4 linked regions of the Homo sapiens genome follow. The protein of the gene in region 3 interacts with the protein of the main gene of each other region in a biochemical or structural test. Each region holds a gene or a part of one and is shown on either strand. Other genes may lie near its edges.

Region 1 (3,500 bases), on a different chromosome or scaffold from region 3:
CCTGGCCAATATGGCAAAAGCCCGTCTCTATTAAAAATACAAAAATTAGCCAGGCATGGTGGCATATGCCTATGATACCAGCTACTTGGGAGGCTGAGGCATGAGAATTGCTTAGACACAGGAGGCGGAGGTTGCAGTGCGCCAAGCTTGCACCACTGCACTCCAGCCTGGGCAACAGAGCCAGACACTGTCTCAAAAAGAAAAAAAAAATTAGCCAGGTGTGGTGGTGCACACCTGCAGTCCTATCTGCTTGGGAGACTGAGGCAGGAGGATCACCTGAGCCCTGGAGTTTGAGGCTGCACTGAGCTATGACAGTGCCAGTGCACTCCAGCCTGGGTGACAGAACCAGGCTCTGTCTCTAAATACATAAGCCAAAAAACACTTGGGGACATGGAAATATTGTCTCTTTGGGTAGGGTTACATGTATGTATACAATAACACTTAAGATCTGCGCATTTTAATATATGTAAATCATACCTCAACTTAAAAAAAAGAGAGAGGGGAAGATACCAAGAGCCTCGTTTTCTTTACTCTATTGCTTGGAGTACAGGAGCCCTAGCTTCATCAGTCTTAAGAGAAGGTCTCCAACAGGAGGAGTAAGTTCTCGTGTTCTATAGCACTGCAGGATGCCTATAATACTATATAGTTTCAATTAACTAGAAGGAAGATAATGGATGTTCCCAACACAAATAAATCATAAACATTTGAGATGATGGATCTAATTACCTCGATCTAATTACTATACATGATATATATGTAAAAAATCACTATGTACCCCATAAATATGTACATTTATATCAATTTAAAAAATAAAAAGAGAAGGTATCTAGATAAGTGTTTTATACCTATCCCATCACTCCCATATTACACATGGATATTCAGAAATTGTTCTTAGCTATAGAAACTTTAAGCATATTTATGACACTATGTGTCATAAATAGATCCTTGTTTTAGAGTGTGTGAGTAAATTCATTTCAGTCTAATTCAAATTAGAATACACTAATATAACATTGTCTAAATTTCTTTAAAAATATACAAGTAAAGCCATGTTATAATCTTATTTAATTCTTAGAAAAAAGTAGTACTTTCCAGGAAATGTAAATTAATACATAGCAATAAAGTAGTCAATGACTTTATTCCTAGTGGGAATTCAAACCAAATCACAATTTATTGAAATGACTAGTTCAAAGTTTACTTTAAAACTGCTGACATATATGTAAATCTCCAGTAATGGATGAAAGGCAATTTTTATTTTGGTTTCAGGCAGGAACCATGGGGAGTTGAATTTCTGCACAGAATAGTTATTTAAAAGACTGAGTAATCTACCATTTTTGAAGACATTTAGAATTTCACAGAAGGTCACACACACACACACACACACACACACACACACAGCTAATTTTATTTACTGGGGCTGCTCTATAAGTGGCAAAACTAGAGTTTTCATGGTCTCACTGCCATGGTTTCAATCAAAAGGCTGAATGACCTCAATTCAAAGTGGCTATGAACAACAGCAATCTTGAGCTAAAAATCAATTTAAAACACCAACTTCAAAGTTTGGAAACTCCACTGATAGAAAATGAAACAGTAATAGGAGTTGTTAAAATGTACAAAACACACCTTCCTCTCCCTTCATAGTTGGATAATTTCAAGGTATATTTTCAGTTTAACCTGGTTTCTCTTCATCATTTAACATTCTATTTTCATGTGTAGTGCCCTGTACTTCCTGTTACTACATCTTGATATTCTACTGCAAATCATGACTCATCCTTAAATCACAGAGAAACTCATCAAAATCCAAAATTTCACAGCACATAGGAACTCAGTCTTTCAAGAGGGCAGCATTCTTAGAACATTACTTGAACCACAGAGGACAAAAAACACTGAACAAGTCTATGAAGAAATTATGTCAATCCATGGTTGAGCCAACACATTTATTAGATCAATAAATAGAAGCTCTATGTGATAATTTCGGTCTCGGTACTAATTATTAAAATGTGTTACATGTTAAGTGAAAAAAGTTATAAAACAGTAAGTACAGTGTGCTTTCAATTAAAAATGGTATGTGCATGTGTGGATATACATAGACACACATATGCATTTTTTTAAAAAACTGAACAATTACACATCAAAAGGTAAACAGTGGAATTATGGGAGATGTCTATTTTTTTATAGCAGTTTTCTGTATCTTTGTAAGGCAATTCACATTAATATTTTTTACAATAGGAAAAAAAACAACCAACCTTTAGAAGATACTATTCTGCTAGCATGGTCTCAAAGTGTGTTATAAGTCGATCTATACAGGCAAAGAGGAATTAAAGATAACCAGGACATAAAAAACTTTTGCCTGAAACATACAAGAAAATCTAACAAAAATGGAGTCCCCTTCCCCTCTCATCTGCGTATTTATGTACAGAACCTTAGGAAAGGGTCAGAAGACAGTCATCTGGGCTCTACAGCCAGAACAAAGCCAGAATGGACAGACAGCCCATTTCTTTTAAACTTTAATGAGACAGCTGGTACAGAGGTTCACACCTGTAACCCCAGCTACTGCGGAGGCTGAGGTGGGAGCATCACTTGAGCCCAGGAGTGCAAGGCCAGCCCTGGCAACATAAACAATTAAAAAAATAAAGTTTCATGAGGAAGTCCAGGTCTGGGAAACATGGAGATGACTGAGTCATTCCTTAGAATTGGAAGGCAACAAAACTAACGATTAGTAAGCAGCAACTCACCCTCAGTGAAAAAAGACTCTACTCCAGGAAGTCACATTCTTGGATAGTTTTCTATGAAGTGTTTTGGGTTGTCATCAGGTCATGTTTTGCAACATTTCACAGCACCATACTGGTCTTCTGAATCAGATAGATATATAAATATAATTGGGTCCCACAGAACACACAAAATCCAATATCTGACAGCTAAGAAGGGAATATTTTAATTTACATACACTGCCTGGAAGTCCTTTAAAACCAATTTCAGGAAAAGATTCAAGTTCCAAAAAGTTATTACAAATATAAATTTTAATATATGACCTCAGAGTTACATGTACTGTATATTAGCACTTTTGACTTATTTAATTTTTTATATAAGAAAAAGAGGAGGTCTTTAATAAATGTTTAGGTTAACTTCAAAACTCAAATGGAGCTGGCAAATCACTGCTCTCCCCTATCTGGACTACTGCCATTCTGGTCTCAACAGCATTGGTACCAAGTGCATGAAGATGCTATACTTGCAGAGTTTCAGAGATGGATGGCCTAATTCAGGACATAAAGGGTACACCATCACAAGGTCACCATCCGTATGTCACTCTATTATTGCATGTTACTGACCAAAAAGAGAAAGAGAAAATTCATGAATGCTATGTTACGTATGTGGCCAAAATTACAGATGATGACTTTTAAATGTCCTATTTGTTGACTGAATGCGTGTTAAAGAGCTTTCATCATCTTCATCATCATTAAAGTAAATAAGATTTTTCTCAATCCACTATAGACATTTTGGGC
Region 2 (2,488 bases), on a different chromosome or scaffold from region 3:
AGCATCCACATACAGTCAGAGGTGCTGAAAGAAAACAGGTCGAAGCCCTGGGTTGTGGAGAGGCGGGCCAGCTCCACAAGCCTCTCCCTCAGTGTCCTCATCTTCACGCCTGAATGCCGAGTGAATTAAATGAGATAAGATATCCACAAGGCCCTTAGCACAAGGCCTGGCACATAGCAAACACTTAAGAAACATCGGCTGGACGCAGTGGCTCACGCCTGTAATCCAAGCACTTTGGGAAACTGAGGCAAGAGGATCACCTGAGGTCGCAAGTTCGATACCAGCCTGGCCAACATGGTGAAACCCTGTGTCTCTACCAAAAATACAAAAATTAGCCGGGTGTGGTGGTGGGCAGCTGTAATCCCAGCTACTCCGGAGGCTGAGGCACGAGAATCTCTTGAACCCAGGAGGCGGAAGTTGCAGTGAGCCGAGATCGTGCCACTGCACTCCACCCTGGGTGACAGCGCAAGACTGTCTCAAAAAAATAAAAGAAAGAAACATCAGCTACCATTGTTTTTATTGTTACTGAGGCTGTCAGTGCCGCCTGGAAGCACTAACACTTTTTCCCATTTCCTGCCTCAGCCCATTTCACAGGTGAGGAAATCTGAGGCTCAGTGAGGGACTTCATTCCCTTCATCTGGTAAATTCCATTTACAGGGGTGGGGCTGGGTGCTCTATCGGTGCCTGGCTTCCTCTCCCAGGGGTGCAGTAGGGGAGAGTCCATTCCCCTGTACCTCATTTAGCCCCAGGATTGCCCTGCCCAAAAGATGACACTCCTGCCCCCAGTGTCCTGGATGGGAGGCCTCCCAGCCTTCCCAAGCAATGGCTGTAATCCTGTGGGTACAGAGTCTGGCTGGGGATCCTGCTGCTCTGCTGGGAGGAGGAGTCTGCCTTCATGGGAGACTCGGTCCCTGCCCCATCGGTACCGGGTGCCTGGAGTCCACCTGCCCCTCACGGAGAGATTTCTGGCCTCTTGTCCTTGAACTCTATTCTGTCCTGCTCCTGGCTCTCCAGCGGCTCCAGGTGGCTGTGCTTGTCCTGGACCATCTTTCCCGGAGTCTTTAGAAATCTAGAATTCAGGCCCCAACTGCAAATCAGCTCCTGCCCCAGCTGCAGGGGGATTCCAGCCCACCCAACCCCAGTTCTGCTTCCCCTTTCACCACATCCCCTAGGCCACTCACCTGAACAGGAGTTTCTGCCCCGGTTCCTTCTTAATGATATTAAGCTTATAATAGTGGCGCAGGGCACGAGACATCTTCTCGTAGGTCATGTTCACCCGGTTCTGGAAAGCAAAGCAGCCCCACATCAGCCCCACTCCCCATGTCCTGCTCCTTCCACACCTGGAAGGGAGTAGGGTGGACTGGACAGCTTCTTAAGCCTCTCATTCCAGGGATCTGTGAGGGTTTATGAGTGCTCACTTGAGTTTGGAAGGAAAAAGGCAGGGGAAGGTTGGGGAAGAAATGATGGGGCTGGGCAGGGTGGCTCACACCTGTAATCCCAACACTTTGGGAGGCCTAGGTGGGCAGATCGCTTGAGGTCAGGAGTTTGAGACCAGCCTGGCCAACATGGTGAAACCCTGTCTCTACTAAAAATACAAAAATTAGCCAGGCGTGATGGTGCGTGCCTGTAGTCCCAACTACTCAGGAGGCTGAGGCAGGAGAATCCCTTGAACCCAGGAGGCAGAGGTTGCAGTGAGCCGAGGTCATGTCACTAGACTACAGCCTGGGCAAAAGATTGAGACTCCATTACAAAAAGAAAGAAAGGAAGGAAGGAAGGAAGGCGAAAGGAAGGAAGGAAGGAAGGAAATGATGGAAAGGTTCTCCTGCCTACTTGGCTGAGAACATAGTGTGGGAGTGAACTGCATGTTACTTTTAAACAGCAAATGTCACAACAGTAACAAATAAATATATATATTTGTGGGAAATGCAATCAGAGAGACAGTATGGTGGGGTGGCATGGATGGCCTTGCCAGGCCACACCCTGGGTGACTTTGGCCAAGTCATTTCTTTCTCTCTCGGGGGTAGGCAGTGTGAGGTAGGGCCAAAGAGCCTGGGGTGTGGCATCAATTTAAGCCCCAGCTCCACCGCTTGTCAGCTGTGTCACCTTGGACAAGTTTCTTGACCTCTCTGAGTCTGCTTCCCCAGCTACATAATGAAAAGGAGAACACCCATCGCATAAGTCAAGGATTAAATTATTAATAGCTAATCCATGAAAGCAGTTAGCACAGTGTATGGCATGTAGTATATGCTCATTAAATGGGACTGCTGCTCTCTGGGCCTGTTTTCCTCCCTGTTCTATATGAGGATTAGACCAATAAGTCCTCCCGAACTTTAGTCATCTGCATCCTTCCAGCCACCAGCACTGCTAAGAGCAGTATAATATAGTGCAGCACATGGCCTGGGTTCAACTCCCTGTTCTGCCTCTTACATAGCAGGGGATGGGTAAACTTGGGGCAAGTTGTTAGCCCTCACTGAGCCTCAGTCTCCAC
Region 3 (5,393 bases):
CTGGGGTAGCCAGTGGGGTGGGCTGGGGGACTCAGAAGGACCCTGAGTGCCCCATGCAGGAGCCTCCCACCCAAGTCCTGGCTGCCTGACTCAGTTTCCCGAATCACGTCCCCTCCGTTTCTCTCATCTTGGTCTCTTTTTGTCTGTCTTTCTCTCTTTCTCTCTGTCTTGCTCTGACTCTGTGTGTGTGTGTGTGTGTGTGTGTGTGTGTGTGTCTGTTTCTCCCTGTCTCTCCATCTCTGTCTCTCCCCGCCTCTGTTTCACTCCCAGTCACTGTTGGTCTCTTTGTGTCTCTCTTTCTCATCCTCTGTCTCTCTGATGTCTCAGTCTCTCCCACTGTCTCTGTCTCTTCATGTCTATCTCACCATCCCTTTCTCCTCTTTGTCTCTGCATGTCTCTTTGATGTGTCTCTGTCTCTCTGTCTCTCCCTCCCTTTGCCTTCTTTGTGTGTCTGTCCGATGTGTCTCTGTCTGTTTCTCTGTCTCTGTCTCTCTGCCCCCTTCCTCTCTGTCTCTGTTTCTCTCCAATATGTCTGTCTGTCTCTTCATCTCTGTCTCACCTTCCCTTTCTCCTCTGTCTCTGCGTGTCTCCCCTTGCCCCCTCTCTCCCTGTCTCTCTCTATCTCTGCATGTGTCTCCTTACTCCTCTCTCTCTGTCTCTCTCTGTCTCTGGGCCTCCCTCTCCCCCTTTTCCCAGCTAATTTTACAACCTGAGCCCAACCGAAAATAGCTCCCTTTTAGCTGATCCGACCCGGATCCTTCTCGGGAGCCGAGGCTGGCGGGGGGTGGGGGGCATCTCGGTGCCAGCCCGCTCTGTGCCACCCGGGCCCGGCCCGCCGAGTGGGGAGTGGGTGCTGGCGGCCCTGGGGCATTCTGGGAGCCCCGGGCCGGGCTCAGCGGTGACTCAAGCGCTTTTTCACTTTTACTCTTAAGAGGAACTGTGTGGAGCCCATGGCTCCCATAAATCCTGCCGGCGGGAAGGCCGGCCTCCCCGCGCCTGCTCTGGGCCTCCCTCCCTGCCTCCCTCCCGCTGGCGCCACCGCCACGTTAGTTATTCCGGGTTTGGGGCCAAGTCCCTCTTGGCCGCAGCGTGGCGGATTCCCCGAGCCACCTCCATCCCGCCACCGGGTCCCTGTCTCATTCGTTCGTTGTTTCCTTCATTCGTTCGTCCCATGCCCTCTCGGAGCACAATGTGCTTTGCTGCCATTTCTCCAGCAGGGTAACCGAGGCTGGGAGAGGCTGTCCTCCCACCCCAGACCCCCGACCTTTGTTGGATTTTCTAGATCTTCCTTAAGCATCTCCTGGGCCCTGGGGATAGGTGGGGGTGGGGGAGGCAGCAGGGCCCAGGCCCAGTGTAGGTTCTTAGAGGGAGCTTGGGGGGTGCCTACCAGGAGCAGGGGGCCTGCAGCCCCTCAGTGCCGGGAGAGGGGCTAAGAGTCAGAGAGGGCCAGGGCCTGCCCGAGGTGGCACAGTGGGGCTGGCAGAGCTGGGGTTCAGGCCATTTTCCATCTGGCGGCTTGGGCAGGTGGGCGCTCTCTCCCCGTGTGCCCCCCACCCGGGGCCTGGTGGCCTCTGATTCACTCTCTACAAGGCTCCACCACTCTCCCGCTGTATCTCCCTCTGGGTCTCTCTGTGCATCTCTCTCTGTTTCTCCCCCTCCCCTCTCTGCGGCGGAGGTGCCTCTGCGCGCCAGGGCCAAGCGCCCTGTAAATCACCAAAGCTGGGATTCTGGCAGAGTCAGCGTTCTCCTCTCTCTCTCTCTCTCTCTCTGTCTCCCTCCCTTTCTCCCCCCATCTCGCTCTCTCCTCCTCTCTCCCTCTCTCCTTCTCTGTCTCCCTTTCCGTCTTTCCCTCTTCCTTTCTCTCTCTCTCCCCGTCTCCCTTCTCTCCCTCTCTCCTTCTCTCTTCTCTCTCTCTTTCTCCCTCCCTACCTCCCTCTCTGTTCCTCTTCTTTCTCTCTGTCTGTCTCTTTCTTTCTCCCTCCCTTCCTCTCTCTCTGTTCCTCCTCTTCTTTCTCTCTCTCTGTCTCTCTGAGCTGGCCTCCCTCCCTGTCTCACACCAAATGGATGGGAAATGCTGCCTGGGCCTCCTGCCCCGGACACGGCCCGCCCCCCACTCTCCTGCCTGTGTCCACGCCGACCTCACCTGGGTGCCCATCTGCCCTGAGCACACAGCGTGCGGGCACCCAAGTCCTGACCAGTTCACATCCATGAGCACACGCTGGGCGCACACGCGTGCACACTCCCTGACACCCATACGGACGAGGACACAGCTCTGCCTGCCTCGGATCTGCCTTGATGGGGGTCACCAACACACAGACCTAGAGTGCCCCTCACATCTGCCTGAAAATCTTGCTCAGGAGGTGCCAAACCCAATATAGTACCTGGTATAGAGAAGGTGCCAAATAACTGCTATAGAGTGGTGCCAAATAAGTGTTGCTGTGCTTGTGATTGTTGCTAAACTAATTCTCCTCTTTCCTGACTCTGGTGGGTGACCTGCCCCCACCCCCGGACCGTTTCTTGCCCTGAAATGAAGTCAGCAGAAACCCCCACTTCCTCAGGGCTGCTGCAGATTCAGGGAGGCAGCACAATTTTTTTTTTTTTTTTTTTTTGAGGTAGAGTCTCGCTCTGTCGCCCAGGCTGGAGTGCAGCGGTGCGATCTTGGCTCACTGCAGCCTCCGGGGAGGCAGGACATTTCTGAGGTCCACAGTGCAGGGCTTGGTACTCAGTAGGTGCCCAATAAATACCTGTTGCACGAATGAATGAATGAATGAATGAATGAATGAATGTTTTTGGTTGAGAGGCGGGACTTTGGTCTTCCCGAGCCTCCATTTCTCCGCCAACATAAAATAAAAAACATAATGGCACTTTCCTCAGAGACATCGATGTACCTTAGTCCGACACCTGGTATACAGTAGGTGCCAAATAAGTGCTGCTGTGCTTATGGTTGTTGCTAAACTAGTAATTGCATTGAACACCCCAGAGGCATTTTCCAGTTTCCCTCCCTTCCCTCTGTGTGTATTTGCGCAGCGTAAGCCCAGCTTTGGGCTGGGTGACAAGGACAGTGGTGACCTGGAAAGGCCCAGGCTCAGACCCCTCTCTACTGTGGCATTTCTGTTAGTTTTTCTTTTCTTTCTTTTTTCTTTCTCTCTCCTTCCTTCCTTCCTTCCTTCCTTCCTTCCTTCCTTCCTTCCTTCCTTCCTTCCTTCCCTCCCTCCCTCCCTCCTTCCTTCTTTCCTTCTCTTTCTCTCTCTCTCCCTCTCTCTCCCTCTCTCTCTCTCTCTCTCTCTCTCTCTCTCTCTCTCTCTCTCTCGGAGTCTTGCACTGTCGCCCAGGCTGGAGTGCAGTGGCGTGATCTCAGCTCACTGCAACCTCCGCCTCCTGGGTTCACGCGATTCTCCTACCTCAGCCTCCCAAGTAGCTGGAATTACAGGCACGTGCCACCACGCCTGGCTAACTTTTGTATTTTTAGTAGAGACGGGGTTTCACCATGTTGGCCAGGCTGGTCTCAAACTCCTGACCTCAGGTGATCCACCTGCCTCGGCCTCCCAAAGTGCTGGGATTACAGGCATGAGCCACCGTGCCCGGCCTCTGTTAGTCTTTTCTCCCTGCCCAGCCCTGTCCAGGGTCTCCCTGAGTTTGACCAGCCCTGTGTGGGTACCAGCCTTCCTTACACATGGGGGTGCATGGATAAGGGGGGTCCCAGAGGCAGAAGATGGGAGCATTGCTTCAGTGGTCTGGATGCTGGAGATGCTAACAGATCAAAGCTGTGCCCTTGTGGGACCGACAGTCTAGGCCGGGTCGGGGACGGGCAGGAAACGAGGTGACCAGGACTCCTTGAGGATGTGGTGTGCGACCGACCTCGGGGATCAAACAAGGGGAAGGGAACCACGTGGGACTCGGAGAGTGTGCACGGTGCAGACCAGGTGTCACTGGACGCTCTGGCCCGAGACTGTTTGCTCAAGGGGCCCAGGAGTGGGGTGGGGGGGTGCCAGGAGGCCCAGGGACCAGTCCCAGCTCAGTTCCTCCCTGACTGTGTGACTTTGGTGGAAGATTTCATGCCTCAGTCTCCTCCTCGAGGTAGTGGGTGCAATGATAGTCCCCACTTTCATAGTAGACTTTTTTTTTTTTTGAAACAGAGTCTCGCTCTGTCGCCCAGACTAGAGTGCAGTAGCACAATCTGGGCTCACTGCAACCTCCGCCTCCCGGGTTCAAGCGATTTTCCCGCCTCAGCTTCCCAAGTAGATGGGATTGCAGGTGTGTGTCACCGCACCTGGCTAATTTTGGTGTTTTTAGTAGAGATGGGGTTTCACCATGTTGGCCAGGCTGGTCTTGAACTCCTGACCTCAGGTGATCCGCCCGCCTCGGCCTCCCAAAGTGCTGGGATTACAGGTGTGAGCCACCGCGCCCGGCCCCTATTTCGTAGTAGACGTGATAGCTCAGCAAACGCTCAGCCTGTAAGAGGCACAGCCTCGCTCCCTGCCTCTCTCCTCCACCTCCTGGCCCCTCTGGCTCAGCCCTCATTGTCCTCCCAGAACATCAAGGCACAGAGGGAAGTAGGGGACCCAGGGTTCATTTTGCTGACTCACTGCCTTGGCAGAGAGTTTGAACCCTGTGGACTCAGTTTACCCAAATTCCTCACTGTGGCCCACAAGGCCCTGCCCAGCCTGTCCTTGTCCCCTCCTCAACCCTCCCCTCCTCTCTCTTTCCCCCTTGCTCATTCTGCTCCAGCCACATGGGCCTCCTCGCTGTTCCTCTAACACGCCAGGTGCGGTCCTGCCCCAGGGCCTTTGCATGACCCATTTCTCCATCAGAAAGCTCCTGGCCTGGAGTGCCATCTCTCAAGACTTTGTTCAGGTGTCTCCTCCTGCAAGAGACCTTCCTGGACCCCCCCCCCAAGCTAAAAAACACCCCCCACCCCAGAGATTCTCTGGTCCCTCAAACTCTTAAATTTCTTCAGAGCACTTTGCCCAACTTGACGTTTTATTACATATTTTGCTGATTTTAACCATCCGTCCCTGCCCCAGATCTGGATCCAGGTGAGGGCCGAGCCCAGGTCCCTGCCAAGTCCTCGGCACCCTACCTGGGACCGGCATGCAGCAGGCACTCACTAAATGTTTGCTGAGCAACAGAATGAATCTTCCCTCTCTGGGAGCCGTTCACATGTCCACAGGCTGTGATTTTCTGAGCCAGGGGAAGGAGCGGCCCAAGGTTAGAGCCTGACGCTGGTGCCGGATGGGCCTGGGGTTGTCCGTGGGACCATGGACAAGTCATCCGACCCGGAGAAGAAGGCATTAGAACTAAGGCTTTGAAGGATGCGTAGGAATTTGGGATAAGTGCTAAGTAGGTAATGAGCTAGATTCTCATGAAGGATTGTTGAGTCACTTTTACCTGGA
Region 4 (3,500 bases), on a different chromosome or scaffold from region 3:
CGCTAGACTTAGAATGGATATAGGTGGTTTGTAAGTGCCTTCCAGTTTTGAAATTTTATGATTTTGTATCTTTATCTATAGGTGTGAGTTTATATGTGCCCTATAGCACTGTATGTAATTGAAATTTAAAATATTAGGGCGCTCTGTCCCTTTCCTAATGATAAGCTAATATTGAAGCTCTTTAATTTGTCTGGGGTTTGAGGATTATCATAGACCTCTCTTCTACCACAGAGCCTTCTCTTTTTAATTGTTCTCCTGTCTTGCCTGTTGAATTGAATTTGTAAGGTTAGAGATGGCAAGAGCTACTTCCGGTGCTGCTTTATAGCTTACTAGTGATGAGTCTATAGTTGTGCTCAAATAGGTATTGGGTAGCTTATGCTTTCTAGTTGACTTCTTTTTGGGCACAAGAAAATGTGTGTAAGATGGATAACTGAAAACCTAGAGGCCCATTCTGTAAAAGAATGGCAATTTGGAAGAAGAACCACGACCTCAGTGCAGTGCTCCGTTTTGGTAATCAAGCTCTGACTCCCAAGACACCATCTGTAAGAGACTATAATTTAAAACAAAGTTGATGAACCAGTTGAGTGCCTTTCTTAAAATTACTGTTGTAAAGTAGATATGTTGAAAATATCAACTGCTAATTATTGGCTCACCAACAAATGGCATGATTTGTTTTTCCTGTTTGTCATTCTAATATTATGGAATAATCACTGAAATATGAATGTTAAATGATTTGCATGTCATAGAATTCAATTCCATTAATTTTCCAAATTAATTAGATTCAATAATAATATGTCCAAAACAATGAGCCTCTGAATAAGTCTACTAAAGCTTTAAATATATATATTTATATCTCAAGACTGCTCTGAGATACTCTTGTCCCCAGTAGTTTTACTGCCAACAAATACCAATAATGACAAACGGTGATTAAAAGGGCAGATAGATGTAAATGAAGGCAGAGGAGGAGGATGAAATGAACATCTGCTTTTTTCAGCTCTCTGACAGAAATTCTTAAAGGACCAAAAATAACACTCTTGTTTCAACTTATGTTAGGTGTAGGAAAATTTTCTTTTTTTCTCTTTCCAGTCTGAGTATGCTTCATTGATTTGTATATTGAATACTAAATTGTTTTAGAAAAAAAAATCATTGGCTGATAAGACACTTAAATGAGAAAAGCTAGTCTGTCACAGGCATGTAGGTGTGCCATATCTATTTAAATAGAGGTTTAAATTATTGATGAGACTTAATGAGGAACTGGTGTATATTGTAACCAAAATTGTAGATTCCACTGTGAACAATCTGTGCATGGATCGATTCACATATTTGAGTCTACCATTTCAGGTACATGAATGTACAGGAGCTACTGGGAATATAAAAACTGGAAAATAAACATTATCATCTATTACCACTCCCTCCTCCTTGGTCCATTTTAGTAAAGAATTCAGTAAAGTGATAGGTAGGCTATCTTGAATGAGAAGAAAATAAAACTAGGAAAGTGAGAGAATAAAAACCAAAACAAAACTGTAACTGCAAACTGTTGTAAAGGACTACTCACAGAGGAGTTCTATTGAATAGTGACGAATTGCTTCCTGATTCACGGTTGGTGATTTTTTTACCCCTTCAAAGAGAAATTTATTATTAAGGAGGAACTGGTATAGTTAACATGTTTCTTTAGCAAGGCCCCACAAAGTTAAAATGTGTGATGCATCCAGTCTGAGGTCATTTCCTCAGATCTTAGAACCTACAGCTTTCCTCCGTATAAACTTAATTTCAAAGGAGGGCTTTTGGCCAGGCATGGTGGCTCAGCCTGTAATCTCAGCACTTTGGGAGGCCGAGGTGGGAGGATCGCTTGAGTCCAGGAGTTTGAGACAAGGCTGGGCAACATGGTGAGACCCCTTCTCAACAATAACAACAAAAATTAGCTGGGCGTGATGGTGCATGCCTGTAGTCCCAGCTACTCAGGAGGCTGAGGTGGGAGGATCTCTTGATCCCAGGAGGTCAAGGCTGCAATGAGCTAAGATCAAGCCACTGCATTCCAGCCTGAGTGATAGTGGGAGACCTTGTCTTTAAAACACACACACACACACACACACACACGAGGGCCTTTGACCACTCTTGAGTAGAAGACTCGAGAAGAACAAAGTAGAAGGCCAGAGAAGAACAAAGTTACTTGAAAGATCTCTTATTAAAGAGAATGTACAAGCTATGAAAAAAAAAAAACACACACACACACACAAACCTCATCTGGAATGAAAAAAACATAATGCATTTGGTTTCTGGTTCCTTAGGCTGTTATGGAACAACCAAAGAACATTATTTTGGTTTCTGAGGTCAGAACTATTTTATTCCCCTCAAGCACACTATGCTTATGGTTTGAGGGAGAATGAGAAATAGGAAACTAGGAACAGGCTGAAATGGTCTAATCTTGACCATCTAATTCTGCAGTGTCTTATTCTCATTCTAAAAGAGAATGGTTATATTCGCTGTTCTAGCATAAAAAGTAATGATAAAAATAAAAGATCCCGTATTACCAGACAATAATCCCCTAGACTGTTTTAATGCTTGGTTGAGTATTTGCTTATGATCTCAGACTTTAAAAGATGGTCTCCCCCTATGGTGAAGCTTGTTAATTATGTAGGCATCATTAATGTCTGTTTACTTATCAAAATTTTATCATTGTTAGTTGTATTACTACTTGACAGTCCAATTTATTTAATTGAAAAGATTGGTTAACATTTTATAGTCAAAGTAATTGTTTCCTGTGTTTTTTCCTGTTTAGGTTATTGGAGTGATGAGTAAAGAATACATACCAAAGGGCACACGTTTTGGACCCCTAATAGGTGAAATCTACACCAATGACACAGTTCCTAAGAACGCCAACAGGAAATATTTTTGGAGGGTAAGTAAGGGAAATTTCTTCAGACCCATTAAATGTTAGGAAAAAATGGAGCTAAAAGAGCTGGGTGGCTCACCTTTCTCATCCTGTGCTGAGAAATGCTGGGGCTCACCCATAAGTATCCAGCATCCCCATGGACACAGGGAATTCTGAACAAATGTGATGAAACCGATGAAATGTCTGGCCTGTAGGTGGTTAGTGATGGAGATACGGGCTATATGTGAATCTTGATTTTTGCAATTCATTAGAGCTTTGTAATGAAAGGAAACAGTTTGTTGCTTGCTTTAAGGATAGGTTCATTTGCATTTCTCCGCAAGGAAGTAGTAATGAGTTACCAAGCCTTAGATTTCACCCCTTTTTGATTTCTTGCTGACTTAACTTTAATTGAATGGAAGAGTTATCACAAATGAATTATCTTTTTGGTTTTTTTTTTTTTGAGATGGAGTCTCACTCTGTCACCAGGCTGGAGTGCAATGGCATGATCTCGGCTCACTGCAACCTCCGCCTCCCAGGTTCAAGCAATTGTCCTGCCTCAGCCTCCCGAGTAGCTGGGACTAAGGTGCGCGCCACCATGCCCAGTTAATTTTTGTATTTTTAGTAGAGA

Evidence for each region. The genes of interacting proteins can lie anywhere in the genome.
Region 1: the proteins of NFIC (region 3) and ELK3 form a complex in vitro, tested with the Homo sapiens proteins (one study listed by BioGRID).
Region 2: the proteins of NFIC (region 3) and ETV7 form a complex in vitro, tested with the Homo sapiens proteins (one study listed by BioGRID).
Region 4: the proteins of NFIC (region 3) and PRDM1 form a complex in vitro, tested with the Homo sapiens proteins (one study listed by BioGRID).

The regions. Positions count from the first base shown.
Region 1 is NC_000012.12:96,197,375-96,200,874, reverse strand, and holds part of ELK3 (ETS domain-containing protein Elk-3), read right to left. Parts: intron 2,850-3,500; exon of another isoform or gene 2,733-2,849; intron 1-2,732. UniProt on the Homo sapiens protein: May be a negative regulator of transcription, but can activate transcription when coexpressed with Ras, Src or Mos. Forms a ternary complex with the serum response factor and the ETS and SRF motifs of the Fos serum response element.
Region 2 is NC_000006.12:36,365,694-36,368,181, forward strand, and holds the end of ETV7 (transcription factor ETV7), read right to left. Parts: intron 1,283-2,488; coding exon 1,182-1,282; intron 1,070-1,181; coding exon 952-1,069; 3' UTR 501-951; downstream 1-500. UniProt on the Homo sapiens protein: Transcriptional repressor; binds to the DNA sequence 5'-CCGGAAGT-3'. Isoform A does not seem to have a repressor activity. Isoform C does not seem to have a repressor activity.
Region 3 is NC_000019.10:3,368,734-3,374,126, forward strand, and holds part of NFIC (nuclear factor 1 C-type), read left to right. Parts: intron 1-5,393.
Region 4 is NC_000006.12:106,092,836-106,096,335, forward strand, and holds part of PRDM1 (PR domain zinc finger protein 1), read left to right. Parts: intron 1-2,779; coding exon 2,780-2,899; intron 2,900-3,500. UniProt on the Homo sapiens protein: Transcription factor that mediates a transcriptional program in various innate and adaptive immune tissue-resident lymphocyte T cell types such as tissue-resident memory T (Trm), natural killer (trNK) and natural killer T (NKT) cells and negatively regulates gene expression of proteins that promote the egress of tissue-resident T-cell populations from non-lymphoid organs.